Linked DNA regions of Homo sapiens. The protein of the gene in region 2 binds, or shares a complex with, the protein of the main gene of each other region. Each region holds a gene or a part of one and is shown on either strand. Other genes may lie near its edges. The genes, in order: PRPF3, TXNL4A and AAR2.

What was found.
Region 1: TXNL4A (region 2) and PRPF3 share a complex: the UniProt entries of both Homo sapiens proteins name them as parts of the precatalytic spliceosome.
Region 3: TXNL4A (region 2) and AAR2 share a complex: the UniProt entries of both Homo sapiens proteins name them as parts of the U5 snRNP complex.

The regions. Positions count from the first base shown.
Region 1 is NC_000001.11:150,327,986-150,331,636, forward strand, and holds part of PRPF3 (U4/U6 small nuclear ribonucleoprotein Prp3), read left to right. Parts: intron 1-334; coding exon 335-481; intron 482-2,466; exon of another isoform or gene 2,467-2,513; intron 2,514-3,651. UniProt on the Homo sapiens protein: Plays a role in pre-mRNA splicing as component of the U4/U6-U5 tri-snRNP complex that is involved in spliceosome assembly, and as component of the precatalytic spliceosome (spliceosome B complex).
Region 2 is NC_000018.10:79,971,420-79,975,070, reverse strand, and holds part of TXNL4A (thioredoxin-like protein 4A), read left to right. Parts: intron 1-1,214; coding exon 1,215-1,386; 3' UTR 1,387-3,651. UniProt on the Homo sapiens protein: Plays a role in pre-mRNA splicing as component of the U5 snRNP and U4/U6-U5 tri-snRNP complexes that are involved in spliceosome assembly, and as component of the precatalytic spliceosome (spliceosome B complex).
Region 3 is NC_000020.11:36,239,371-36,243,021, reverse strand, and holds part of AAR2 (protein AAR2 homolog), read right to left. Parts: intron 3,202-3,651; 5' UTR 3,154-3,201; coding exon 2,397-3,153; intron 1-2,396. UniProt on the Homo sapiens protein: Component of the U5 snRNP complex that is required for spliceosome assembly and for pre-mRNA splicing.

The DNA.
Region 1 (3,651 bases), on a different chromosome or scaffold from region 2:
TTGGAGGAGGTGAGTTTTAGGCAGGATTTGGAACAGGGGTTGTGGAAAAGTTGAGAGAAATCATTATAAATGTGAGCAGTAGCATTTGCAAAGACCTTGAGATGGGAACATTTATAAGAACATGGGAATGAAATTTGTTTGACTGGATTAGGAGAATGTTGAAGTTGGGTGAGATGGAGAGTCTAGTAGACCCTGCTTCTGGCAGGTGGCTATTTGCAAGGTTGTGTCATATTCCCCTGGGAATAGCCAGAAAATGCTGGTAGGGGCTAGGATAATTCTTCCCTTCTCCCCACGGGGAGGGATACAGCTTTTCTTTCATCTTGGGTTCCCTTAGGAGGTGTTTGGTGATGACTCTGAGATCTCTAAAGAATCATCAGGAGTAAAGAAGCGACGAATACCCCGTTTTGAGGAGGTGGAAGAAGAGCCAGAGGTGATCCCTGGGCCTCCATCAGAGAGCCCTGGCATGCTGACTAAGCTCCAGGTTAGTGATTAGGGACTGGAAGCAAAGTGGTTTTGTGAGTTGAAGAAGCAAAAGGTGCATGGGTCTGTATTTATTGTGGAATTTTTTTTTTTTTTTTTTTTTTGAGGTGGAGTTTTGCTCTTGTCACCCAGGCTGGAATACAGTGGCGCGATCTCAGCTCACTGCAACCTCCGCCTCCCGGGTTCAAGCAAATCTCCTGTCTCAGCCTACTGAGTAGCTGGGATTAGAGGCACCCACCACCAAGCCTGGCTAATTTTTGTATTTTTAGTAGAGATGGGGTTTCACCATGTTGGCCAGGCTGGTCTTGAACTCCTGATGTCAGGTGATGCACTCACCTTGGCCTCTCAGAGTGCTAGAATTACAGGAGCGAGCCACTGCGCCCGGCTAATTTTTTGTATTTCTTTTAGTAGAGACAGGGTTTCACCATGTTGGGCAGGCTGGTCTTCAACTTCTGACCTCAGGTCATCTGCCCACCTTCGCCTCCCAGAGTGCTGGGATTATAGGCGTGAGCCAGCGTGCCTCGCCTTATTGTGATCTTGATTTGAATTAGTGTTTAGCATTTGGGGTAAACTTTTTTTTTTGAGATAGAGTTTCACTCTGTTGCCCATGCTGGAGTGTAGTGGCGTGATCTCAGCTCACGGCAACCTCCACCTCCCAGGTTCAAGCGATTCTCCTGCCTAAGCCTCCGGAGTAGCTGGGACTACATGCGAACACCACTACGCCTGGCTAATTTTTGTATTTTTAGTACAGATGGTATTTTGTCATGTTGGCCAGGCTGCTCTGGAACTCCTGGCCTCAAGTGATCTGCCACCTCAGCCGCCCAAATGGCTGGGATTACAGGTGTGAGCCACCATGCCAGGCCAGCATTTGGGAAAATTTTATTTCCTGCTTTATGTTTTAGCGTTCTTTGATTTGACCAGGAGTATTCTAGGTAAGGGTATTGAAATTGCCATTTACTGTGGCAAGCAAAGTGTGTTATGTACATTATTTGCCTAATTACCTATGTCGTTGAGTCATTGAGAAAATTAAATGAAATGATCAGAACTCATCTTAATGACAGAGGAGACTCTCCAAACATAATGCAAAGAAGATATAATCCACTGATAAATAATTTTAAGTTGACTTTATTTTTTTTTAACAGGAAGTATTTGTGTTTTTTCAATTGGCATTGTTAAATAATACCACATAAGTGTTTCTTTTACCATTTAATATTTGAGGGGGGTAATAGAACATATACAGAAATATGGGTGGGTGGATTTGCATATATGTGATATTTACAGAAGGAAAGAAATGGATTTTTTTTGTGTGTGTGTGTGAGATGTTCTCTCTGTCACTCAGGCTGGAGCGCAGTGGTGCGATCTCGGTTCACTGCAGCCTCTGCCTCCCAGGTTCAAGTGATTCTCCTGCCTCAGCCTCCTAAGTAGCTGGGATTATAGGCATGTGCCACCACGCACGGCTAATTTTTGTATTTTTAGTAGAGACAGGGTTTCACCATGTTGACCAGGCTGGTCTGGAACTCCTGACCTCAAGTGATCTGCCTACCTTGGCCTCCCAAATTGCTGGGATTATAGGCGTGAGCCACCGTACCTAGCCTGTTTTTGTTTTTCAGGCAAGGTCTCACTTTTTTGTCCAGGCTGGAGTTCAGTGGCGAGATCTTGGCTTACTGCAACCTCTGCCTCCCGGGCTTGAGTGATCCTCCCACCTTGGCTTCCCAAGTAGCTGGGACTACAGGTCACCATGCCTGGCTGATTTTTGTATTTTTTTTAAAGATTGAGTTCCACCATGTTGCCCAGGCTGGTCTTGAACTCCTGGGCTGAAATGATCCTCCTGCCTCAGCCTCCCAAAGTGCTGGACTTACAGGCGTGAGCTACCACGCCCAGCCAATTATTTTCTTTTTTGGGGGGTGGGGGATGGAGTCTTGCTCTGTCACTTAGGCTGGAGTACGGTGGCGCGTTCTCGGCTCACTGCAACCTCTGCCTCCCGGGTTCACGCCATTCTCCTGCCTCAGCCTCCTGAGTAGCTGGGACTACAGGTATGTACCACCATGCCCGACTAATTTTTTGTATTTTTAGTAGAGATGGGGTTTCACCATGTTAGCCAGGATGGTCTTGATCTCCTGACCTCGTGATCCACCCGCCTCGGCCTCCCAAAGTGCTGGGATTACAGGCATGAGCCACCGTGCCAGGCCCAATGATGTTTTTTATGGAGAATGGGGATGGACGTATTCACAACATATCCTTTTGTTATGTTTCTTTCTTTTTTTTTTTTGAGACGGAGTCTCACTCTGTCGCCCAGAGTGGAGTGTAATGGCGCTATCTCGGCTCACTGCAACCTCCGCCTCCCGGGTTCAAGCTATTCTTCTGCCTCAGTCCCTTGAGTAGCTGGGATTACAGGCACGCGCCACCACGCCTAGCTAATTTTTTTGTATGTTTAGTAGAGACGGGGTTTCACCATGTTGGTCAGGCTGGTCTCGAACTCCTGACCTCGTGATCCGCCCGGCTCGGCCTCCCAAAGTGCTGGGATTACAGACGTGAGCTGCCAGGCCCAGCCTGTAATTTTTCATTTTATTTTATTTTATTTTTTGAGACGGAGTCTCGCTCTTGCACTGTTGCCTAGGCTGGAGTGCAATGCCGTGATCTCAGCTCACTGCAACGTCCGCCTCCTGGGTTCCAGCAGTTCTCCTGCCTCAGCCTCCTGAGTAGCTGAGATTACAGAACGTGCATCACCATGTCCAGCTAATTTTTGTATTTTTAGTAGAGATGGGGTTTCACCCTGTTAGCCAGGATGGTCTCGATCTCCTGACCTCGTGATCCACCTGCCTCAGCCTCCCAAAGTATTGGGATTACAGGCGTGAGCCACCACGCCCAGCCCTGTAATTTTTAATTTTTTTATTTTCTTTCTTTCTTTACTTATTTAGAGATGGAGTCTCCCCCTGTTGTCCAGGCTGGAGTGCAGTGGCATGATCTTGGCTCACTGTAACCTCCACCTTCTGGATTCAAGCGCTTCTCCTGCCTCAGCCTCCTGAGTAGCTGGCATTACAGGCGCCCACCACCACACCCGGCTAATTTTTGTATTTTTACTAGAGACGGTGTTTCACCATGTTAGCCAGGCTGGTCTTCAGCTCCTGACCTCAAGTGATTCGCCCACCTCAGCCTCTCAAAGTGCTGGGA
Region 2 (3,651 bases):
GCATGCTGCATGTAGGGCCTGCCTGCAGCATGGAGAATGAGAGGGCGGCCAGAGGTGGGCTCCAGACCCTGATCAGATTTGCCTCTCCTGAACCAGAGACTTCACGGGGAATACTTTCTACGGAATAGTAGGTGGAAGCCAAATGCATGATCTTGTGGAAGTGAACGTTAAAAAACAGTCTTTAGGTGGGGTATGCCTGCAGCCCAGCCACTCTGCAGGCCGGGGTGGGACTGGAGCTAGGGGTTTGAGTCCGGCCTTAGCAACATAGCTCGCATCTCTAAGAAAAATAATCAGGCCGGCACAGTGGCTCACGTTTGTAATCCCAGCACTTTGGGAGGCCGAGGTGGGAGGATCACTTGAGGCCATGAGTTTGAGACCAGCCTGGCCAACATGGGGACACCCCATCTTTACAAAAAACTAGAAATTTATCTGGGTGTGGTGGCTCGTGCCTGTGGTCCCAGTTACTTAGAGGGCTGAGGTGGGAGGATCATTTGGGCCAGGAGGTTGATTTTGCCACTATGCCCTAGCCTAGATGACAGTGAGACCCCATCTCAAAAAGAAACTTCAACAAACCAGGATAAATTTATGCCAGTACAACAAAGGGTTAATATCCTTATCTTGTAAAGTGCACATGAGTATTCATGAGGAAAAGAACTAGTCTCTTGAAAGATAAGTAAAGAATTATCTACTTCCCTAACCATAAACATGCAAAATGTCATCTTCATTTCATAGTTGAAGGGCTTTTAATACAATTTATGTCATTGCTCATAAGAGCACTGTGAAAAACTTACACATTGCTTTTATCAGGTAAATTAGTACAAATTAGATGGGGGTCTCATTTTGTTATCCATGTTGATCTCGGACTCCGGGCCTCAAGTGATCCTCCTGCCTCAGCCTCCCATAGAGTTGGGATTACAGGCATGAGCCACTGCGCCTGCCCTCCTTTGACCTTTTAATTTCCCCTTAGAATAACTGTCCTAAATAAATACAGAAAAATGCAGGAAAGAGCATGGTGGACAATGCATTGCATCTTTAAAAACACATTTAGCTGCTTCCTGTATTCTCCTGCATCATGGCATACACTCTCGATTTTATGCGTTCTTCAGTGATGTTAACAAGAGCTTGTCACAGTGGGAAAAATACGGCATTGTTTTCAAGGAATTCTTTTTTAAAGAGACTTCTATGAGAATGGATGCCCTTGTTTCTCGTTGCAGGAACAAGCACATCATGATTGACTTGGGGACTGGCAACAACAACAAGATTAACTGGGCCATGGAGGACAAGCAGGAGATGGTGGACATCATCGAGACGGTGTACCGCGGGGCCCGCAAAGGCCGCGGCCTGGTGGTGTCCCCCAAGGACTACTCCACCAAGTACCGCTACTGAGGCGCCCTCAGTCTGCGCGGATAAATGTCGTGGAGCCCTTTTTGTATGGAAACGTTTTAAGCTATTTAAAGCCTTTGGAAAATACAGGAAGCTCCAGGGCTGGAGCACCTCTGAGATGGAATTGATAACATGGTCTTAACTCACCGAAATAAACAAGCACGTGGTGAGAGGAGCAGGCCTACTTGTTTGTTCTCAGGAAACTTAATGAATAGATTACTGATTTTCCTAGTCAAAGTTAATTCTTACCCTTGGAGTAAAACGAAGGTGTTTATCCTGTGAGCCTGTGCGTTTTGCATACTGGGTTGGTTTGCTGGGGCTGCGGTGACAGCATATGCCGCGAGCTGGGCTTTAACAGAGATGTGTGCTCTCACAGCTTTGCAGGCGGGGGTCTGAGATCAGGGTGTCGCGGGTGGGGGGTCACTGCTGAGGCCGTGAGGGGAATCTGCTCAGGCCTGTCCCTGGCTTCTGGGGGCTGCTGGTGGTATTTTCAGTTCCTTGGTGTGTGGATACTTCGCCCCATCTCTGCCTTCACCTGTGTCCTCCCTGTGTGGGTGCTGGTGTCCAAAATTTCCCCTTTTCGTAGTGACACCAGCTGTGTTGGATTGGGGCCCACCCTGCTCCAGCATGGCCTAATCTTAACTAATTACATTTGCAAGGATCTTATGTCCACAAAAGTCACAGTCTGAGGTGCTGGGGGTTAGGACTTCAATATATAAATTTTGCGGTTACACAATTCAATCCATGACAGAATCCAAAGGTTTACTCTGGTTATAAAAACAGTACAATAAAATATTGTTTATAGCCTTCCCTGTAAGGAATAGGAGAGCTATTTTTTATTCTTCCCAAGATTGTATTTGATGTAAACATATTTTCTGTAGAAGCCATGGCCCTTCAGTTCATATAGTTAGAAAATTTCCTTATTGGCCAGGCACGGTGGCTCACACCTGTAATCCCAGCACTTTGGGAGGCCGAGGTGGGCAGATCACGAAGTCAGGTGTTCGAGACCAGCCTGGCCAACATGGTGAAATCCCGTCTCTACTAAAAATACAAAAATTAGCTGGGCATGGTGGCGCGTGCCTGTAATCCCAGCTACTTGGAAGGCTGAGGCAGGAGAATTGCTTGAACCCGGGAGGTGGAGGTTTCAGTGAGCCGAGATCACACCACTGCACTCCAGCCTGGGCAACAGAGCAAGACTCCGTCTCAAAAAAAGAAAAGAAAATGTCCTTATTACAGTCTCAGGTTTCTCTTGCCCTCTGTCATCCTAGCAGTGTGGATGGTTGGTTGGGATCTTCGTGTCCCGTCTCAGCACACTCGAGCTCTGAAGTGAAAGTGAGGAAGGGCAGGGATGGGGGCACTTGAGCACACCGTGGGCCCTCTGACCTCAGACCCAGGCTCTGCCCCACCAAGTGACCTTGGGCAGGGTACCTTCTCTGAGCTTTGTTTCCTCCTTGGTAAAGGCGGATAATAGTGTCTGCCCTGCACACAGATGTGGACGCAGAAGCACGTGGTGCCTGCCGGGCACAGGAGTGGTGCACAGGGCTCGCTGCTGTCGGGAGATTGATTGCTGTTGTGGAAACGGGAGGGTACTTACAGAATGAAGCACATTTTTTACATACAGTACAAATGAGTGTGTGCTTTTTAAATGGATTTAAAATTCAAATGCAAATCTGCAGTTTAATCTCCCAAGTGCTGATTTTTCTATGTATAAAGTAGGAGAGTGCAACAGCGTATCGGAATGAGGGGCTAGGGAGAACGTGTATGTGACCTCGAGTACCTGGCATGTAACAGACACTCAGTATTACACTCCTGCTATTTCTCCAGAGCAGGTGAAACAGACGGCCAGGAAGCACACGAAGAGACACTCAGCATCACTGCTTGTTAAGGAAGGTGCAAATCAAAACCACAGTGAGACGCCACTTCACACCTACAAGTTCGGCTAGATACAAAAAGATCGCAACAAGCGTTTGCAAGGATGTGGAGAAATTGGAGCCCTCACACACTGCTGGTGGCAAAGTGGTAACACAGGCAGGCAGGTCGTCAAAAAGTTAAACATGGGCCGGGTGCAGGTGTCTCAAGCCTGTAATCCCAGCACTTTGGAAGGCTGAGACAGGCAGATTGCTTGAGCCCAGGAGTTCACGACCAGCCTGGGCAACCTGGTGAGACCCTGTCTCTACAAAAAATACAGAACAATTAGCTGGGCATGGTGGTGCGTGCCTGTGGGCCCAGCTACTCGGCGGGCTGAGGCAGGAGGATCACTTAAGCCCC
Region 3 (3,651 bases), on a different chromosome or scaffold from region 2:
GCTGGGCGTGGTGGCACACACCTGAAGTCCCACCTACTTGGGAGGCTGAGGTGGGAGGCTCAGTTGAGCCCAGGAGGTTGAGGCTGCAGTGAGTTGTGATCATGCCACTGTACTCCAGCCCATGTCACAGAGTGAGACCTTGTCTCAAAAAAAAAAAAAAAAAAAAACCAACAAAGTTATTCCTGTAACAGACCTTTTCGCAAGATATATTTTGAAGAATTGAAATGTTTAAGAGGTAGAAAGACAGGATTTCTATTCATTTTTAAGCCAGACTTTTAAAAGTTACTTATTATACGAAAATACTAATGCATTAAGATGTACCTGTTAAAGGCTGGGTGCGGTGGCTCACGCCTGTAATTCCAGCACTTTGGGAGGCTGAGGCAGGTGGATCATGAGGTCAGGAGATCGAGACCATCCTGGCCAACATGGTGAAACCCTGTCTCTACTAAAAATACAAAACAAAATTAGCCGGGCGTGGTGGCGGGCGCCTGTAGTCCCAGCTACTCAGGAGGCTGAGGCAGGAGAATGGCGTGAACCCGGGAGGCGGAGCTTGCAGTGAGCCGAACTCACACCACTGCACTCCAGCCTGGGCGACAGAGCAAGACTCCGTCTCAACAACAACAACAACAACAACAACAACAACAACAACAACAACAAAAGATGTACCTGTTAAAATATAGGTTATATCATTAGCTGAGCCAATGATATAAAAAGTCCTGTCTAGGCACAGTAATCCCAGCACTTTGGGAAGCCGAGGCAGAAGGATCACTTGGGCCCGAGAGGTTGAGGTGGCAGTAAGACATGATTGTGTGACTGACTGTACTCCACCCTGGGCGACACAGCGAAACCCTGTCTCAAAAAAAAAAAAAAAAAAAAAAGAAGTCCTACATTCAAATTTCTCACTGAACTTCCAACAAGAAAATATGCAAATTACCTGGAAAATTTATAAATATATATAAAAATAGCTGTTCAAAATGTGACACATATTTGCTGTCACTAGTATTTAAGAAATAAAGAAATATAAACAAGGTGCCATTTTTCAGCTATCCAATTGGAAGAGGCCTTTGTTAAACTGTCATGCCCAATGCTGTCAAAGGTGATGGGCAACAGGTTCCTACCAGCCAGCAAGGATGCAAAAACCTTCTCCTGGCAACATGCACAGTCTGACCCAGCAATTCTATCCCTAAATGTATGTGTAAGTACACACGAGAATGTTCACTAGATGATATATGTATATATATTTTTGAGACGGCTCTTGTTGCCCAGGCTGGAGTGCAATGGCGAGGTCTTGGTTCACTGCGACCTCTGCCTCCTGGGTTCAAGTGATTCTCCTGCCTCAGCCTCCAGAGTAGCTGGGACTACAGGTGCACACCACCCAGCTAATTTTGTATTTTTAGTACAGATGGGGTTTCACCATGTTGGCCAGGCTGGTCTCGAACTCCTAACCTCAGGTGATCCCCACCGGCCTCAGCCTCCCAAAGTGCTGGGATTACAGGTGTGAGTCACCACACCCGGCCACTTGATGATACAATAGAGAAAACAGGGAGCATCTCAATGGTCCATAACAGAGAACTGGTCCAATAACTATGGAACATGAAACAGCCACTAAAAAAGTGACTGTTAGTGACATGAAAAAACATTTATATTAAGGCAGATTACAAAGTAATAATATACTTCAATCCTGTTTTTATAAAAACTCATATATATACAGACACATATACTGAATTTTTAAGACTGAGAGGAAGTACATAGAAATAAACAGAGAAGACATTGAAATGAAATACATAGAAATACACAGAAAAAAAGGAACGTAAATATACCAAACTGTTTAAATGGTTATTTCTAAGTAGTGAGATTTGAAGTAAATTTTGTTTTTCTTTTATGATTATTATCTATCATTTTTGTAATAAAAGGGAAGGTAACAATAAAAACTGTAATGATTAAAAAAAAAATCACTGTCCTGTTCTAAGCCAGTTGAGAGACCAACATCTTGAGGGTCAGGAGCAAACTGAGCAGGCAGGTGAGAGGCTACAACGAACACAGGTCTGGCCCAGAAACCAAGAGTCCTGGGTTCTCGTCTCAGTTCAGCCACTCAGTGGGCCAAATCTTTTCCTTCTGTAGGACTGGGCTCTATCAGTGGTTCCCAAACAGAAGATTATCTGCACCAGGTTCACCTAGGATGTTTGTTTATTAGACAGATAGAAACTGCGGAAGCCCCACTCCAGATCTCTCAAATCGAAATCTCCAGGGCTAAGGGTAAAGACACACCTGTATCTTCAGCCTCCTAGCCAGGTTTAGTTGCTGCTGGACTAACACAAGATGTACTCCCTATTCCAAAACACCTCTGCTAATATCCTCCCCTTGGCCCACTCCCAAAGAGCCTTGTTCCTTCTCACCAAGCACATCCTGGGGGCTGCTGGGGAACTGCTTGTTGAGCACAGTCTCCAGGGCATAGCTCAGGTCCATGCTGTGCTTGGTTATCTCAGCTGGCGTGGCACCCTCTGGGAACATCTGCGTGGGCAGCTCTGAGAAGCGGATCTCTGTCCCGGCTCTGGGCTTCATCTCTGGTAGCCGGGCCAGGCCCTCTTGGTAGCTTTTGCACTCAATGCCACAGCGGGGTAGATTCTGCCCCACGCGGTCCTTGGTGTGCTTCATGGAGAGCACAGGTAGCACATCGGAAAAGGCACAGATCTGTCGATTCTCGGGCTGTAGCTTCTCCACTGTGGCTTCGCTGATGAAGTTGGTGAGTGAGATCCACTTCTTCAGGGTGGCATATGGGTAAGGCCCCAGGAACTGGTCCAGCTCCTGGAGGTTGGCCCTCATGGCCTCCACCTCAGACTCTGGGGCTGGGGACAGGTCTACCTCTTCCCTGAGTGTGCTCCAGCGCAGCACTGTCAGCCCCCGCTGGTGCAGGCTAAGGAAGAAACCCATACGAGGGCCTACTTCCTTCGGATTAGCCTTGTCCACAGAGCTGTAGTGGAGGAAGTGGATGCCTGGAGGGATCATCTTCACGCCCCGGAACTTGGGCCCGACCTCCCAGGAGTTATAGTCAATCCCAAACTCTGTTCCCTTGGGCATGTTCAGGATGACCACAGTGGCCCCTTCAAAGAAGAGGCGCTTGGCTAGCTCAGGATCCATCTGCACGGCAGCCATGGGGCCAGTGGTGGGTGACCAAAAGAACCCTTTTTCTTTGATGAACAGCTGAGAAAGAAAGAAACCAGAGTTAATCAGAACGTGGGGGAAAGATGCTTCATTTGCTAAGCATTCTGTATGTGCCAGATATTGAGTTAGACCCCTGACATAATTATTTCCCTTAATCCTCATGACAACCCTGCATTGAGTTTACAGATGAGAAAAACGAGGATTAAAGGAAAGGATTTTTGTGTTTTGGCTTAACATGCAAGGACACTCACTTCACAGCTATAAGATACCAGTGAAAGAAAAGTGACATGCTCATGGTCATACCAGGACCCAAATTAGAATCTGGATACCCTGCCTGCAGGCCAGTGTTCTGTCCACCGTCCATTCTTAATATCTTCTCAGATCTCTTTCTCACAACAGAGGGTGAGGGTGGAAAATGCCTGGACAGGTCACTCTAAACTATATGCCTACATCATTTAAAACTACAATTCTGCCAAAAAACTATCCCAA